Regions from separate parts of the Homo sapiens genome. Here region 1 is linked to region 2. The links come from fine-mapping of genetic effects on gene expression. A gene starts in region 2. The other region holds a variant in brackets. All regions are shown on one strand. Distances are between the middles of the regions.

What was found.
Region 1: its variant is fine-mapped to the expression of EPB41 in whole blood (TOPMed, PIP above 0.99).

Annotation. Positions count from the first base shown.
Region 1 is chr1:29,042,352-29,051,370 of GRCh38, reverse strand. The region is part of intron 11 of EPB41 (erythrocyte membrane protein band 4.1); the gene reads right to left. Among named protein-coding and RNA genes, the nearest start is that of TMEM200B, 77 kb to the left of the region's middle. The variant A/T (reference allele first, on the strand shown) is at 5,251.
Region 2 is chr1:28,910,539-28,919,557 of GRCh38, reverse strand. It overlaps EPB41 (erythrocyte membrane protein band 4.1), which reads right to left and starts at 4,989. Exons shown (of 21, transcript NM_001376013.1): 1 at 4,790-4,989. RefSeq lists an enhancer at 4,185-4,344 and a silencer at 4,565-5,224.

The DNA of each region.
Region 1 (9,019 bases), 130 kb before region 2:
TCCCAGCACTTTGGGAGGCCGAGGTGGGCAGATCACCTGAGGTCGGGAGTTCGAGACCAGCCTGGTCAACAAGGTGAAACGTCGTCTCTACTAAAAATACAAAAATTAGCCAAGTGTGGTGGTGGGCGCCTGTAGTCATAGCTACTCGGGAGGCTGAGGCAGGAGAATCACTTGAACCCGAGAGGCAGAGGTTGCAGTGAGCTGAGATCGTGCCACTGCACTCCAGCCTGGGCAACAGAGCCAGACTGTCTCCAAAAAAAAAAAAAAAAAAAAAAAAAAAAACAGAAAAAGAAAAAGAAAGAAATGCTCATTACTCTGTCATAATTTCCAATGAAAGAACTAATTCCTTAGCGGATATATAGGAAAAACAGCAGAAATTCAAGAATCCCCTTTATCAGCCAGGCGTGGTGGCTCACGCCTATAATCCCAGCACTTTGGGAGGCCAAGGTGGGTGGATCACGAGGTCAGGAGATTGAGGCCATCCTGGCTAACACAGTGAAACCCATCTCTACTAAAAAATACAAAAAATTAGCTGGGCGTGGTGGCGGGCGTCTGTAGTCCCAGTTACTTGGGAGGCTGAGGCAGGTGAATGGCCTGAACCCAGGAGGTGGAGCTTGCAGTGAGCCGAGATCGTACCACTGCACTCTAGCCTGGGCAACAGAGCAAGACTCTGTCTCAAAAAAAAAAAGGATCTCCTTTATCTTTCCATGAAAAATCTGCGGCCTCTTGCACAGATTGCTACTACTGGGTTAGTAGTAATAACTCTGGATTAGCACAGAGCTACTACTAATGGGTGCTTTAAGCAGTCACTGCAAGAGTGGCAGATGGCAGACCAAACCTGACAACACAGGGGAATGTGACAAAATATTTTGCTCACAGTTGTGTTTAAGTATCATTATACATGTGTATTCACACCTCCTCTCAAAGAATTAATTCAACTATGCCTGGCATCATAGAAACTTAGCCCATGCTTTCACCATGTGTTATTTTGCCACTTGTCTTTGGTTTCAATCCAGTACTAATACTGCAGAGCCAAATGATTTATGTCTTCAGCATTCCTAGCCTTGGCAATCTGTACTGTATGTGGAAAAGAAGGTATTAGTGTGGAAACTGACAGAAACAGAGTTCACAGATTGGAAAAATAATAACATTACAATAAAAAGCTCTGGCTGTGAAAGGCTGCGTGGAACAGAGGCAAAAGCCAAATCACGAGTCTTAGGCCCACACTCAGTCACATATAGTAGTGTGCCTAAGGCGTGGAGCTTAATCTTACAAACTTTAGTTTAATCATCTGTAAAATATGGAAGATATTAACTCTATAATATCATGGTAGTGATCATGGCTTTTTTTAACAGCTTTTTTTGAGATACAATTCACATACCACACAGTTCACTCATTTAAAATATATAATTCAATGCTTTTTAGTATATTCACAGTGTTGGGGGTAAGGATTGCTTTTTAAGATGTGTGGGTCTTCAGTTTTATTAATTCAGCTGTTAATATTTACAAGATTTTGGTGCATATATAGACAATACATAACTTTAAAAATCCAGTATCTCCCATATCTGAGGGTCTACATAAAGAAAAATGCTGATGGTGACCCACTAACTTCAATACTATATTGCTCTTGGCTGACAACAGAAACTTAGATAGTTATATACTACAGCAGTAAAGAATAAAATTCAAACCATCAGACTGAGTAAAGGCAAACAACTTCTACTTCTAGCTGTTATTTACTAGCACAATTTCTGCTAGTATGCGGTAGGGTGGTTCTTTTATCAGAGGACCACATAAATCATTTGTGTCCTCTGATACAATGTTTGTTTTTCAAGACAAAAAACAAAAAAATCAGATGATGCTCAGGCCCACTCTAGTGAGATGAGCTATCCAAGAGTGAGGCTTGGGCATGTGTTTTGTTTTAAAGCTCCAAAGGTGATAAGGATGTACACCCCTGGCAAGAATCACTGTAACCACTGCTCACTGAATGGATGAACTACCTGGTTGTGTGGCCCTTTCTTTTGTGCTCCAGTTTCCTCATGAGTAAAACTGTAATTCCTAAATGTTTTCTCTTATTGACTAAGTTGCTAGTATTAAATAGGAATACATGGAAATGGTTTGAAAAGCAAAAAGTGCAAGAAAAATATAATCTTTGTCATCATTATTAGCTACGCTTGCAACTTACTACTCTATCATAAAACTGGGATCTGAACCAGTTTTGGTACTCCAGCTGGTGAAGCAGATGCTCTAAGCACCACACATAACAGAAGAGGAAGGGAATGCTCATTTTTATCATTAAAATAAGACCCCTTATAAAGCAATTCTTGTAAAAGTTTCCCTGATACACCATCTCTAGCTTACAGAGTTATATTAATCTTTTGAAAAGGGAGGGGTGACTCAACGGGAAAAAGTATCTTTTAAGGAGCACAGAGAAGTATCTAAGGAAAGGAGGGAAAAATAGTTACACAGACATATTTCCACTTTTTATACTATAGTACAAAGAGAAAAATAAGACATTTAAAAACAGAACTACAAAAAAAAATTGTCCTATTCAGTTTATATGCACTTCAGATACTTAAAAGATAGAACAGTGCCTGGAACATACTAAGTGCTCAAGGAATATTGACTATTAACTTTTATTCTACTCTTTCTAAAAAAAAGAAGTCATCATGGTGAAGAGTAAAAAGCATGGGCCTAGGAGAATTGTCCCGGATTCCCTTCTAATTCTTTCCAACTAGCTATGTAACCTTAGGCAAGTCACTTACATTCTAAGGTTAAGTTGTAAGAAATAATGAACATTAATGAGTATCTAGTTCAAGAATTTTTTTTAAAAAAGCTCAATAAAAGCGTAAAGAAAATAATAGGCCGGGCGCGGTGGCTCACGCCTGTAATCCCAGCACTTTGGGAGGCTGAGGTGGGTGGATCACCTGAGGTCAGGAGTTCGAGACCAGCCTCAACATGGAGAAACCCCGTCTCTACTAAAAATACAAAATTAGCCGGGCGTGGTGGTGCATGCCTGTAATCCCAGCTACTCGGGAGGCTGAGGCAGGAGAATTGTTTGAACCTGGGAGGCAGAGGTTGCGGTGAGCCGAGATCACGCCATTGCACTCCAGCCTAGGCAACGAGAGCAAAACTCCGTCTCAAAAAAAGAAAATAATAAAGATATCAGCTGGCATGAGTTAAACTATATATAATAGGAAAAAAACAACAAAACCAAAAGTTGGTTCTTTGAAAAACTTAAGACAATTACTTTGTACCCCATAAATATATACAATTATAAATTGTCAGCCAGGCTCGGTGGCTCACTCACGCCCGTAATCCCAGAACTTTGGGAGGCCGAAGCAGGTAGATTACTTGAGGTCAGGAGGTAGAGACCAGCCTGACCAACATGGTGAAACCTCGTCTCTACTAAAAATACAAAAATTAGCCGGGCATGGTGGCGCATGCCTGTAATCCCAGCTACTTGGGAGGCTGAGGCGGGAGAATCGCTTGAACTTGGGAGGCAGAAGTTGCAGTGAGCCGAGATCACGCCATTCCAGCCTGGGCAGCAAGAGTGAAACTCCACCTCAAAAATAAATACATACATACATACATACATACATACATAAATTGTCAATTTACAATATAAAAAAGAAAAGATTAATAAAATCAATATACCTCTACCAAGGCTATTCGAAACAAAAAGGTACAACTTACCAATATCAGGAATGCAAAAGTGGACCCTGCTATAGTTCTTACAGATATTGAAAAGATACCCAGCTTTATGTAAATATATTTGGAAATTTAGATAAAATGCACATTTCCTAGAAAAACACAACTAGGCCAGGTGCGATGACTCACACCTATAATCCCAGCACTTTGAGAAGCCAAGGTGGGAGGACTGCTTGAGCCCAGGTGTTCAAGATCAGCCTGGGCAACACAGTAAGACCTTGTCTCTACAAAAAAAAAAAAAAAAAATTAGCCAGGCGCGGTAGCGTGAACTTGTGGTACCAGCTACTCAGGACGCTGAGGTGGGAGGATCATTTGGGCCTGGGAGGTCAAGGCTACAGCAAGCTATGACGGCACTACTGCACTCCAGCCTGAGAGAGCTAAGACTCTCTCTCCAAAAAAAAAAAAAAAAGGAAAGAAAGAAAGAAAAAAGAAACACAATTTATCAAAACTGAAACAAGAACTAGAACATTTTAATAGTCCCTTATCTAATAAAGACACTGAATCTGTAAGTAAAGAACCTCCCACAGTGAGATCTCTAGGACCAGATATGGCTTCATAGGCGAATTCTTCTAAACAGTAACAAAGAAATGACAACAGTCTTTAACAAACTCTTCCAGAGAACAGAAAAAGAAGGAATTCTTCTCAATTTATTTTATGAGACCAGCATAAACTCGAAACTAAAACCTGACCACAACATTACAAAAGGAAAATTATAGGCCTATCTCTCTTATGAAAATAGTTGTAGAAATCCTAAAACAATAAAAAAGAAAAGAGTATTACGACCAATTCGAACTTACTCCAAAAATTCTTAGGTCGTTTAAAAATTGAAAGTAAAAATAATATACCACATTAACATAAAAAGGAGAAAAATCATTTTATTATATCAACTGATGAAGTAAAAAGCATTTGATAAAAGTAACACTAATTCACAATTAAAATGTGTAGGAAACTAGAATGACAACTTCCTTATATGATAAAGAAAATACCATATAAGGAAGCTTGATGAAATACTGAAGCTTTTGCCCTAAAATTGGGAAAGATGATAGTTATTAATGCTTGTATTCAGCATTACATTGGACGTTCTAGCCAGCAACAAAGCAATTAAAGAAATTAAAAATGCGAGATGGAAAGGAAGACATACAACAATCATTATTTTCAGTTGATGTTGAGTACACAATAATGTATACCCCAAATAATCCACAGATAAACCATTAAAATTAATAATAAATTTTTTAGGGCTGGGTGTGGTGGCTCACGCTTGTAATCCCAGCACTTTGGGAGGCCGAGGTGGGTGGATCACGAGGTCAGGAGTTCGAGAACAGCCTGACCAACAGGGTGAAACCTCGTCTCTACTAAAAATACAAAAAATTAGCCGGGCATGGTGGTGGCGTGCACCTGTAATCCCAGCTACTCAGGAGGCTGAGGCAGGAGAGTCACTTGAACCCAGGAGGCAGAGGTTGCAGTGAGCCGAGATAGTGCCACTGCACTCCAGTCTGAGTGACAGAGTGAGACTCTGTCTCAAAAAAAAAATAAAATTAAATT[A/T]AAAAAAAATTTTTTTAGTAAGATTACTGAGTATAAGGTCAAACTAGAAAAATTAATTGTATTTCTATGTACCAAAACAATTGAACAAAAAATAAAAAATTTAGGATACCATTTATTTTATTTTGTTTTATTTTATTTTATTTTAGAGACAGGGTCTCACTCTGTTGCCCAGGCTGCAGTGCAGTGGCACAAGCACAGCTCACTGCAGCCTTAACCTCCTAGGCTGAAGTGATCCTCCTGCCTCAGCCTTCCATGTAGTTGGGACCACAGGTGTGCACTACCATGCTCAGCTAATTTTTTTTTTTTTTTTTTTAGAGACAGGGTCTTGCCATGTTGCCCAGGCTGGTCTTGAACTCTCAGACTCAAGCGATCCTCCCACCTTGGCCTCCCAAAGTACTGGGATTATAGGCATGAGGCACTGCAACCAGCCAAAAACCAAAAGATACCATTTAAGATAGCAAACGATGGCTGGGTGTGGTGGCTCACTCTTGTAATCCTAGCACTTTGGGGAGCCAAGGTGGGAGGATTGCCTGAGCCTGGGAATTTGAGACCAGCCTGGGCAACATGGCAAGACCCTGTCTCTAAAAAAAAAAAAAAAAATTAGCTGGGCATGGTGGCATGCACCTGTAGTCCTAGCTACTTGTGAGGCTGAGGTGGGAGGATCACCTGGGCCTGGGAGACTGAGGCTGCAGTGACTTGTGATCGCTCCATCGCACTCCAGCCTGGATGACAGAGTGAGACCCTATCTAATAATATTAATATAAAATAGCAAATGACATCAAATCTGTAAGAATAAATCTAATGAAAGATGCACAAGTTACCTACACCAAAAATCACAAAACATTACTGAGAGAAATTAAAGGAAACCCAAACAAAAGGAGGGTTATAGCATGTTTGTGAATCAGAAGACTCAATATTATAATACCAATTATCTCCAAACTGATCCATATAATCAACTAAATCCCAATAAAAGTATTAAGACTTTTTTAGTGGAAATAGAAAATCTGATTCTACAATATATAAGATAACGCTAAGGGCTAAAAATAGCCAAGATAATCTTAGAGAATATTGTTAGAGAATTTAAACACTTATAAAAGCTAGAATAATTAAGATAGTGTGGTATTGACACAAGGGTACACAAAGATCAATACAAGAGATTAGAGAGACCAGAAATGAACTCCCAAATTTATGGTCACCTGATTTATAACAAAGGTGACACTGGAATGCAGTAGGGAAAGAATGGTATTTTATTTTATTTTATTGTTATTTTTGAGACGGAGTCTCACTCTGTCATCCAGGCTGGAGTGCAGGCGCGATCTCAGCTCACTGCAACTTCTGCCTCCTGGGGTCAAGCGATTCTCCTGCCTCAGCGTCCTGAGTAGCTGGGAATTCAGGCATGTGCCACCATGCCCAGCTAACTGGCTAATATTTTTGTATTTTTAGTAGAGACAGGGTTTCAACATGTCAGCCTGGTTGGTCTCGAACTCCTGACCTCAAATGATCCGCCCGCCTCAGCCTCCCAAAGTGCTGGGATTACAGGTGTGAGCCACCACATCCAGCCAATATTTATTTATTAAATACACTGTAGCAAGAACTGTGGTAATTACCATGAAAAGTTAAGACCATACATCTTAAAAAAAAATTCAGAATATAAATGTAATAAGGCAGTCAAGATGTGATTTCTGTAAAGCTTTCTAACTTGTTCAAGGTACCAAAGCTCATTAACACTTGACTCTTTGGTTATCTTTGCTATCAGGAAAAGACAATACATCAGGCATAGTATCTATATAACCATGAAACTCCATTTAGCAAGGAAAGCCATGGAACATGCTATCAGACAGACCTGGATTTTTGTCATAGTTTGCAACTTACTGTCTGTGAGATGCTGAACAAGTCACTTAAACTTTCCAACCTCAGTTTTCTCACCTGAAAAATGGGGATAAAAAGATAATTCCCCACACATAAGGTAAACTAGAAGTAAGGTGATTTACTGGACAAGGAGGGAGATGCCTGATATTGTTATCTGAATATGGCAAAGACATGAAGATTAAATGATTATGCCTCAAACTTAACTTATCCACAGTAGGAGTTTTTATTTTCCATATCCCCAACTCTGCTACTCTCCCAGATTTTCTCATTCTACTAAATGATTAAGCCAAGCAATAAAACTTGAGTTTCTTTTCCTTATCATCTCCAATACTTAATTTGTCAGCAATTCAGTCAGCCCTATCTCCAAATGTATCCCTGACTACTTTTCCCTGTCTTTGTTGCCAACACTCAAGTCCAGGCTGTCCCAGACTCTGCAACAGCCTTCGCCCTGCTTTTCACTGACACTTCAATGGACTATTCAGCTGTCAGCGATCTTTTAAAAATGGGATTCAGATTGCATCACTCCCTCTAATAGCTTCCCAGTGCAAATGAAATACAATCTAAACTCTTTACTGTGACCCACAAGGCCCTATACAATCTGGCTCCCACCTACTTCTCCGACCTCACTTATTTTGTACTCCTCGCCCCTTCATTTTCTGGAATCTAGACCTATGCTGTCTGATATGTGAGCTACACACCACATGTGGCTATTTAAATTGGAATTAAAATTCCGTTCCTCAGGCACATAGCCACATTTCAAGTTCTTAGCTTAGCAGCTATTGGCTGCTGAACTGGATATCACAAAATGAAAGATTTCCATCAGCACAGAAAGGTCCATGGGACAGCACTGCTCTAGACACATGGCAAGCTCATTCCTACTTTCAGGACTTTGTACTTGCTACTCCCTCTTCTGCAAGGCTCTTTCCCCAGATTTTGAGATGGCCGGCTCCTTCACATAATTCAGGTCTCAGCTCAAATGAAGCTCCTCAAAGAAGCCTTCTAAATTAGATTGGACCATCCAATCTGAAATACTCCTTAATTTCCCCCATCCCCAGATAGTCTATATCCCTCATCCTGTTTTATTTTCTCCACAGCATTCATCACCATCTGAAATTATTTTGTTTTATTCTTCTTTGTTTCCAATGACAGAAGGTAAGCTCCATGAAGGCAGAGACTATGTTTGTGTGCTCACGGCTGTATCTCTAGTGACTGGAATACCATCTGGCCCATAGGAAAAATTGTTGAACAAAGTAATAAATATGTATCTGAAAGAACATGAGTTTTGGAGTTAAACCAACCTGAATTTCACTCTTAGCACTTCCATTTACCAGATGTCACGTCTTATGAAAAGTCATTTTAATCTCCAAGCCTAGTTCATAGTGTTTTCATGAAGATTAAGACAAAGCATGCAACATGCCTTGTATTGTTACTATTAAAACAGCCCCTCAGGAGAGTAGAAAAACACCAAAAAAAAAAAAGTTGGGGGGTGTCATGTCTATAATCTCAGCACTTTGGGAGGCTGAGGCAGGCAGATTACTTGAGGCCAGGAGTTCAAGACTAGCCTAGCCAACATGGTGAAACCCCATCTCCACTAAAAATACAAAAATTAGCCAGGTATGGTGGCACATGCCTGTAATCCCAGCTACTTGGGAGGCTGAGGTACGAGAATCACTTGAATCTTGGAGGCGGAGGTTGCAGTGAGCTGAGACTGTGCCACTGCACTCCAGCTTGGGTGACAGAGTGAGGCTCTGTCTCAAAAAAAACAAAACAAAACAAAACAAAAAAAACAAAAAAGCATGACTCACAGTATGGAAGCACAAAAGTCCTACTGCTTAGGTGATCTTTTTTCCAAATGTGGCTGACCCCTTCCTGATTCCTCTAAATTAAGGACATATGCTCT
Region 2 (9,019 bases):
CGGGAGGCAGAGGTTGCAGTGAGCCGAGATCATGCCACTGCATTCCAGCCTAGGCAACAGAGCAAGACCCTGCCTCAAAAAAAAAAAAGAAAGAAAGGACTTTTAAGGATAGCAATTTGACTGGAAGGAGAGACAGAATATTTGGATATCAAGCTCCCAGTTCCTACCCAGATTGCATGTTTACTTAGGGTGACTTAGTGGGAAGCTGACGAAGCTAGCGGGTAGGGGATATTAAAGTCTCTTCAAGCTACTCCTTGAATTATACTGGCTGCTGTTCTCCAAAGTTCAAAGAGCTAGCCAATTTATTTTCAAATATTTTAAGTGGATACAATTCAATTTAAATAAAAAATCAGCAAAATAAGTATAAACAGACTTTCATCATAATCGGATTTTCCCAAAACCAATATTTGAAGCAAAGTGTCAGTAAGGTGGGTAGTTCTAAATGAGATCAGCACTCAATATAAAATATCAAAGTTCTCCTTTCTAACACCTCCAAGTTCTGAATACTCCTCACTGCTACAGCATTCTTCTTTATCTTTCTATGTATTCATTAAATAGCAGCAGAGTAAATCAAAATACTAATCTAACCCAGTGTGCACTCCAGAGTAAGTTATATTGCATTTGACTAAACACACCATGAACCCACTCTTAAAAAGGACGCACAGTAAAAGCCACCAGTGACATACCAAGAAACTTAAATGAACAACAAAAAATAACATACATTTGGCATCTGCCTCTCCTCTCCTCTAACTAAATGCTATGATAAATGCAATCAAGCAATTACTTTTTCTTTTTTCTCTTTGAGACAGAATTTCACTCTGTTGCCCAGGCTGGAATGCAGTGGTCTCAAACTCAAAGGCTCAAGTGATCCGTGGGCCTCGGCCTCCCAAAGTGCTGGGATTACAAGCATAAACCACTGCACCTAGCTAGCAATTACTTTTCAATAATTTTGGATCCTTCACATACATAAGGCCCATAACTGATTAATTCAGAGGCCATCTTTGGGGGCTTTATTTAGAGGAAAAAAACAAAGTTATTCATAAGAAAAGTTATTGGAATTATTGTTGTTTAGCTCACAAAATAAAGTGATTCCATGTTCAAGTAATTAAAGAAAAAATTCAAATATAGAGGTAGCAATGAATCCACATCTGAATATGCATTTAACCAAACACAAACTTGATGAAACTCAGAAAAATACAGGCCATTGGCTGGGTGTGGTGGTTCATGCCTGTAATCCCAGCACTTTGGGAGGCGGACGTGGGCAGATCACGAGGTCAAGAGATTGGAGACCATCCTGGCCAACATGGTGAAACCTCGTCTCTACTAAAAATACAAAAATTTAGCTGGGTGTGGTGGTGTGTGCCTGTAGTCCCAGCTACTCAGGAGGCTGAGACAGAAAAGACAAGAAAAACAAAAATACACTGGCAACACTTATGCTGTCCTGCCTCTTAGATAACAAGGAAACAGACTGTGGTCTACATCTATGCTCCTCTTGATTTCAGAACCAAACTCAGCCTCTCATGGCCACTGATATTCTAAAGTTATGAAATCAGATTAGCAATATGAAACTGGATTACTACATTAAAAAAAAGTAAGCAAACTCTATCATTCACACCAACAATTACACACCAGGCATGGTGGCTCATGTCTGTAATACAGACTAAGCTGGGCACAGTGACTCATGTCTGTAATCCCAGCACTTTTGGAAGCAGAGGTGAGACGATCATTTGAGCTCAGGAGTTTGAGACCAGCAGTTTGAGACCAGCCTGGGAAACAATAGCAGGACCCCGTGTTTTAAAAACGAAAAAAAAAAGCTGGGCATGGTGGTGCACGTCTGTAGTCCCAGCTGCTCAGGAGGCTCAGGTGGGAGAATCACTTGAACCCAGGAGTTCAAGGCGGCAGTGAGCCAGGATCATGCCACTGCCCTCCAGCTTGGGCAACAAGGTAAGATCCCTGTCTCTAAAAACATATGTATACAGGGCCAGGCACGGTGGCTCATGCCTGTAATCCCAGCACTTTGGAAGGCCGAGGCGGGTGGATCACGAGGTCAAGAAATCGAGACCATACTGACCAACATGGTGAAACCCCAACTCTACTAAAAATACAAAAGTTAGGTGGGCATGATGGCAAGCGCCTGTAATCCCAGCTACTTGGGAGCCTGAGCCAGGAGAATTGCTTAAATCCAGGAGGTGGAGGTTGCAGTGAGCTGAGATCATGCCACTGCACTCCAGCCTGTGTGACAGAGTAAGACTCCATCTCAAAATAAATAAATAAATACACACACACACATACACACACACACACACACAGAGAGAGAGATGGCAAAGCAAGGGTTATTACAGAGTAGTTCTATTTGGTTGCACAATACAAAAAATAAGGAGAATAAAGGTGGAAAGGTAGATTGTAGCCATATTGCATAAGAACTTACAAGACATTTGGTATAAAACACTTAATAAATGTTGGGAGAGGCCGGGTGAGGTGGCTCACATCTGTAATCCCAGCACTTTGGGAGGCCCAGGGAGGAGGATCTCTTGAGTCCAGGAATTCAAGACCACCCTAGGCAACATAGTGAGACTGTCTCTACAAAAAATAAAAAGACATTAGCCAAGCATGGGGGCACACGCCTATAGTCCCAGCTACTAGGGAGGCTGAGGCAGGAGGATCACTTGAGCCCAGGAGTTTAAGGCTGCAGTGAGCCGTGATCATGCCACTGCACTCCAGCCTGGGTGACAGAATGAGACCCTGTTTAAAAAAAAAAAAAATTGTTGGGAGAATTTTGGTAAAACCTACAGATTAAAAACATTTATTTCTAAGCCTGAATTCAAACATACAAGGAAAAATGTATAGTTTTGTTGGTAGAAGACAGAGGAATCAGAAGGTTGGCATTCTGAACTTATGTTCAACAATGAGTTCACCTTTTTTTGAGACAGTTTTGCTCTGTTGCCCAGGTTGAAGTGCAGTGGTGCAATCTCGGCTCACTGCAACCTCCGCCTCCTAGGTTCAAGCGATTCTCCTGCCTCCACCTACTGAGTAGGTGGGATTACAGGCACATGCCACCACACCCAGCTACTTTTTTGCATTTTTAGTACAGATGGGGTTTCACCATGCTGGCCAGGCTAGTCTCGAACTCCTGACCTCAAGTGATCCACCCGCCTTGGCCTCCCAAAGTGCTGGGATTACAGGCGTGAGCCACCGTGCCCGACATAGTTCACTTTTAATAGTGCCAAAGATATACTGTACTTGTTTCCCCAGGTGTATGAATAATATCTATATTTACCTTAATTATAAGCTTCTTATAGAAAGCACACTGAATTAACTACTTTGATTCTAAGGCAATCTGGTGTTCAGTTATTACATCTATTTTTGAATCTGCCATTTATTGAGTGCTTACTGTACGCCAGATAGCATGTACGCTACATGGATTATATTAATAACACCCCAAACCAAAAATTTTACAACTGGCGAAGAACTGATTACACTTTCAATTTACAGAAAAGGAAAATGAAGAGTACATCAAGTTTCCATAAAAAGTAGGGGTTAGTGCTACATTAACAAAACTGGGACGGGAAGAAACATATACGGGCTATATATCCTGCTTTTGATTAAAGGGATCAAACCAACTAAAATTTTTGCCAGGACTGAGAATACAGAAAACAACAATGAGCAACAGCATTGACTACAGTACATCCTCAAGAGAGTATAAATCCACTATAATAATATCCAAGACACAAGACACAACCATTTCTTGCAATTTTCCCTAAAAACAGAAGGGAAGAAAATAGCAGCTGTGAAATCACCCAGACTACAAAAAAAAAAAAAAAAAAAAGCATCTGAAAAAAAAAAAGGAAAAAGAAAAAACTATCTCCTAATGAACAACTACATGCCAAAAAACAAGTCTCCACAGACTAGTCATTTATGGCAGGGTACAGGGTACAGTTAAAGAAACAACAGGATGACAGTCGCTATCATGTGGCCAGAAACCAGTCCATCAGCAATCTGTTTCACGTGAGATCACTTTTTCTCAAGAGAATGCCTGTTCTTGGGGAGCATGACCTGTTTTGGCAAAACCTCCCCAGGAATAATGGCCTGCTGGTCAATCTCGGAGGGCGAGCCCAGACCCGGCCTCTCCACAGGTACAGCAGCCCAGCGAGCACGGAGGAAGATTTCCAAGCCGACAGATGCGCGAACTGAAAAAGGAGGTCACGACGCTGAGAGAATAGATTTAACCCTCTGCTCGCTGGGAACCCAGAAGACTAAGGGGGAACATGTTTTTCAATGATGCAGGCGTCGGTGGCGGGAAGGCCTGCGAAGTCTTGCCAGGGCTCCCTGCAGTCCTCAGATTCCGCCTGACTTCTGCAGACAGCCCAGCTCCCTCGCCAGGAAGAAATCGCTCCGCGGCTGCACGCAACACCTTCACCGTCTGAAACCTGCGATTCTCCGCATTTGGTTTCCTCCCGAGGCTCCTGCACACCGCACCGTGATTGACGCACCCGAGGGGACCGTCAAAAATACATCTCAAGCCTAACTTTCCAACACTCCCGCGACGCAACCCCTTCCCCTTTCCTCAGCGGCTCTGGCCCGCCCCTCGCTCCTCGGGCCGCGTCCCGGCTGGCGACTCGGCGTGCACACGAGGCTCCTCCGCGGGAGAGCCCGCGCCCCGGCCCGGGGCCTGTCGGGGGTTGCAGACAAAGAGGCTGCAGCGCCGCCGCGGCCGCCAGGACCGTCCCCACGGGGACAGCTCCACGCCCACCGCCCCGGCTCCCGCGCCGCCGCCGCCGCCTCGCCTCACCGGTGGCTCCGGGGCCGGGCTCCTGCGCCCGCCACTGCTGCAGCCCGACGAACAATGGCAGGAGGAGGCGCCGGCGTCCGAGGCTCGGGCCCTCTGCGGCTCGCGGGCCCGCCGGCTGCTGCTGGCTGACTGACTAAACGCACCAGCGGAGGGAGGGAGCGAGCGAGCGACCCTGGCGCGCGCCCTCCCGCCTTCCCTCTGCGAGGCGAGGCCAGCCCGGCCCGCAGCCCGCCCGCCGGCCCGCGCCCCTCCCCCTCAGTTCGCCACAACATTGTAGTAAATTTCTATTGGGCCGCGCCGGAGGGAAGGAGGGGGCCGGGCCCGCGGCCCGTCCGCCCATTGGCTGAGGCCAACTTCTAGCTCCCCTTGTTTCCCCCCTCCCCTAGGCCGGTAAGGAGAGGAGAGGGGAACGAAAAAGAGAGAGGAAAAGGCAAGGGGCTGGCCGCGTGTGCGCACGCGCAAGTCGAACCCGGTCTGGAGCCGGGGTGTTCCGGGATCCCGCAGCACCCACGTGGGGCATGAGGCAGCTAGAGCCCTGGACGGTGAGGCCCTTTCCTCCTTCCAAGTAAGAGGCCGAGATTTGGAAGCCTCAGGGAAGTAACTCGCGTAGAGGTTGTAGCCAGGCTACCCCAACTGACTCCCCCTAAACGCTTAGTGACCTCGGGTAAGTCACTCAGCTTCTCTGTACCTCAGTTTCCCCATCCACTAGTTTGACTGTCTCTAGGCGCCCTTCCAACCCTGACATTCGATGAGACTTTACCTCTCGTGCCAGCTGTGTAAGGCCTGAAATGGAAGCTAAGTGTTGAGACCACGCCAAGATTGAACCTGTCTTCTGCATTTAAGGATCTCCTAATTCCCCCCTGGCAATCTCAACATTATAAAGACCTAGCTTCCGAGGTCTGGTCTCCAGATGAACTGAGGGTTGCTCTGACAATTGCTTAGTGTGTCTTTATTTCCTTCCAGAAGTGTCAGAGACCCCTTGACCCTTCCTACTCCCTGCTAGGCTGGTCTGTGAACAGGCTTCGGACCCACAGTGCAGAAAGAAGGCTTTTGTTTTAAGCATGATACCTAGAAGGTAAGATAGGATCTGGTGTTCTATTTTAGAGATGAGGAAACTGAAGCAGAGAGACTTAAAACTGACAGGATAAGAAGCCAGGCCATCTGACAGCAGAGTCTGTAGATGCCAGCTAGACATTCCTGATATCTAATCACAGCCCCTTCACGATCCCAGCACAGCCTCTGGAAACAGATTGCCTGGGTTCAATTCTTAGTCTCCAGCCTTTTCTAATGGTTTGATTTTCATTTTTCTTTTATTTATTTATTTATTTATTTGAGACGGAGTCTCGCTCTGTCACCAGGCTGGAGTGCGGTGCCGGAATCTCGGCTCACTGCAACCTCTGCCTCCCGGGTTCAAGCGATTCTCCTGCCTCAGCCTCCCGAGTAGCTGGGACTACAGGCGTGTACCACCACGCCCAGCTAATTTTTGTATTTTTAGTAGAGACGGGGTTTCACCGTGTTAGTCTCGATCTCCTGACCTCGTGATCCGCCCTTCTCGGCCTCCCAAAGTGCTGGGATTACAGGCTTGAGCCACCGCGCCCGGCTGTGCCTCATTTTTCAACACCATAAAAGGGGATAATATGTCCAAGTAGCTGGGACTCCCACCTATAGTGGGAGGCTGAGGTGGGAGGATTGCTCAAGCACAGGAGTTCAAGGCCACAGTGAGCTAGGATCATGCCATTCCACTCCAGCTTGGGCAACAGAGCAAGACTCCATCCCTAAAAACAAAAACGAGGGTTGGGGGAGGGAGAAGGATAATAATAGTTCCCACCTCACAGAGTTACTGTAAGAATTAGGCCAGGCATGGTGGCTCATGCCTGTAATCCCAGAACTTTGGGAGGCTGAGGCAGGCGGATCACCTGAGGTCAGGAGTTCGAGACCAGCCTGGCCAAATGGTGAAACCCCATCTCTACTAAAAATACAAAACTTAGCTGGGCCTGGTGGCAGGCACCTGTAATCTCAGTTATTCTCGGAGGTTGAGGCAGGAGAATCACTTGAACCCAGGAGGTGGAGGTTGCAGAGAGCCGAGATCATGCCATTGAACTCCAGGTTGGGTGACAAGAGCAAGACTCCATCTCAAAAAAAAGAAAAAGGAAAACAGAATTAAATGAGTTAAAATATGTAAAGGACTTAGAGCAGTGCCTAGCTCATAGTAAGATCTATGTGTGTTAATTATTATTACTATTCAGAGACTAAAATGTGGACTGAGAGGTGTGGAACTGGCAAATATAATAATATATTTGTTAAGCATGCAATTGTTGTTAGCACTGAGCTGAGCACGTTATGTAAATTGTCCATTTGAAACATCATAAAACCCCTTGAAAACCACCTGACTATACCATCTAAAACACCCTCCACTCAAACACCCTTATCCTGCTTTAATTTGCTTCATAGCACTTACCCTACTTGACTTTCTACTATATATTTATTATTTATTGTGCCTCTCAAATAAATTGCTGTAATCTAGACCCACTAGACTGCAAGCTCAGGAAGGCAGGGACTGTATCTGTATTCATCTCCCAGAACAGTATACGCTCAATAAATATTTGTTGAATGAGTTAATGAACATCCTCATTTTACATATAAGGAAACTGAGTCTTAGTGAGGTCAGGTGACTTGGCCAGGGTCATTCTGTGTATGAGGGGTGAAGCACCTGTTTTTTTTTGAGAAGGGGTTTCGCTCTTTTTGCCCAGGCTGGAGTGCAATGGCACGATCTCGCCTCACCTCACTGCAACCTCTGCCTCCCAGGTTCAAGCGATTCTCCTGCCTCAGCCTCGTGAGTAGCTGGGATTACAGGCATGTGCACCACGCCTGGCTAATTTTGTATTGTTAATAGAGATGGGGTTTCTCCATGTTGGTCAGGCTGGTCTCGAACCCCCAGCCTCAGGTGATCCACCCACCTCAGCATCCCAAAGTGCTGGGATTACAGGCATGAGCCACCATGCCTGGCCACACCTGTTCTTAAATACTCTGGTCTCCTGCCTCAAGTCCTCAGGTTCAGCTGTGCTTTTTATTCAGAGTTCTAGTCCTACCACCTCTGTGCCTCAGGCTTCCTTCACCAATCAGACAGGAAAATCTGGTACCTTGAAGGATGAGTATAGAAGACCAATTACCAGTGGTTTACCATCTCCACCACCACCAAGTTATCCAGCAAATTCAGATTCATGAAAGCCCAGTATTCTCTATGCCATGAAGTGCTAGCCAATGGCACATCTAATTGGATGCAAAGAATATGTAGCATTTAATAATCCTTACTCTGCAAATAAGTAGAGGTCTCAGGCTAACAGCAAAAGGCTAGACACAAGGCAGGTATGAACTACTCTGAAATTCAGAGTGCCATGCAATAACACACCATAATCCATTGACTCAGGCTTTAGAATCTGAAAGACCTGAATTCCAGTGCTGGCTTTTAATTCTTAGCCTGGAGATGAAAGGGCTTTGTAAACTGTAAAGTACTATCCACACATGAGGAATTTTTGTTATTTTAGACACACATCTTCAGTTGTTAGGCTAAGTGCCCAATCTCTGAGTGTTGCCAGGCCTATCACATAGGAAGATGTGGGGGTATAAGTAATGCCTAATATGAAGGTGGAAAAACTACCTTTACTCCTGGGCCCATCTGCCCTCTCAGACTTCTGCAAACCAGGTATCCAGTCCCAGCTCACCCTGCAGAGACTGCCATCAGGTACCAAGGGTAAAGGTCCCAAGCACCGTCTCTGAGGCTAATTTCCAAGGCAGAAACAGCTCTGCTCCATGCTCACATCTGGGTGGCAGCTGTGCTATGCCCCAAGCCCCAGGATGGGGTCCCTAAGGACCATCTCTATCTCGCCTGCCAGCTGAGCCCACCATTACCTCCCCACCCCCTACCCCTTGTGTTCCTTCCTAGGGAATACAGGCCCCGCTAGCTGCCTGTTAGCCCCTGGAGCAGTCAAGGGCAGTAAGCAAAAGAGAAAAAGAAAAAAAAAGACAGTGTGAAAGGGTCTTAATCCTTCCCCACAGCAAACTGAGCCCAAGCAAAAGCAAACACCAGCTGCACATAAGAGGGTGAAATTAGATGGTGAAATTAGGTGGTGACCAGTGGGGAAGGCCAGGGAGTGTAGATGAGGCCTCAGATGACCTGGTAGAGATGAGACTGGAAGAAAGCGGGGAGGGGCGGGGAAACCATACCCAAAT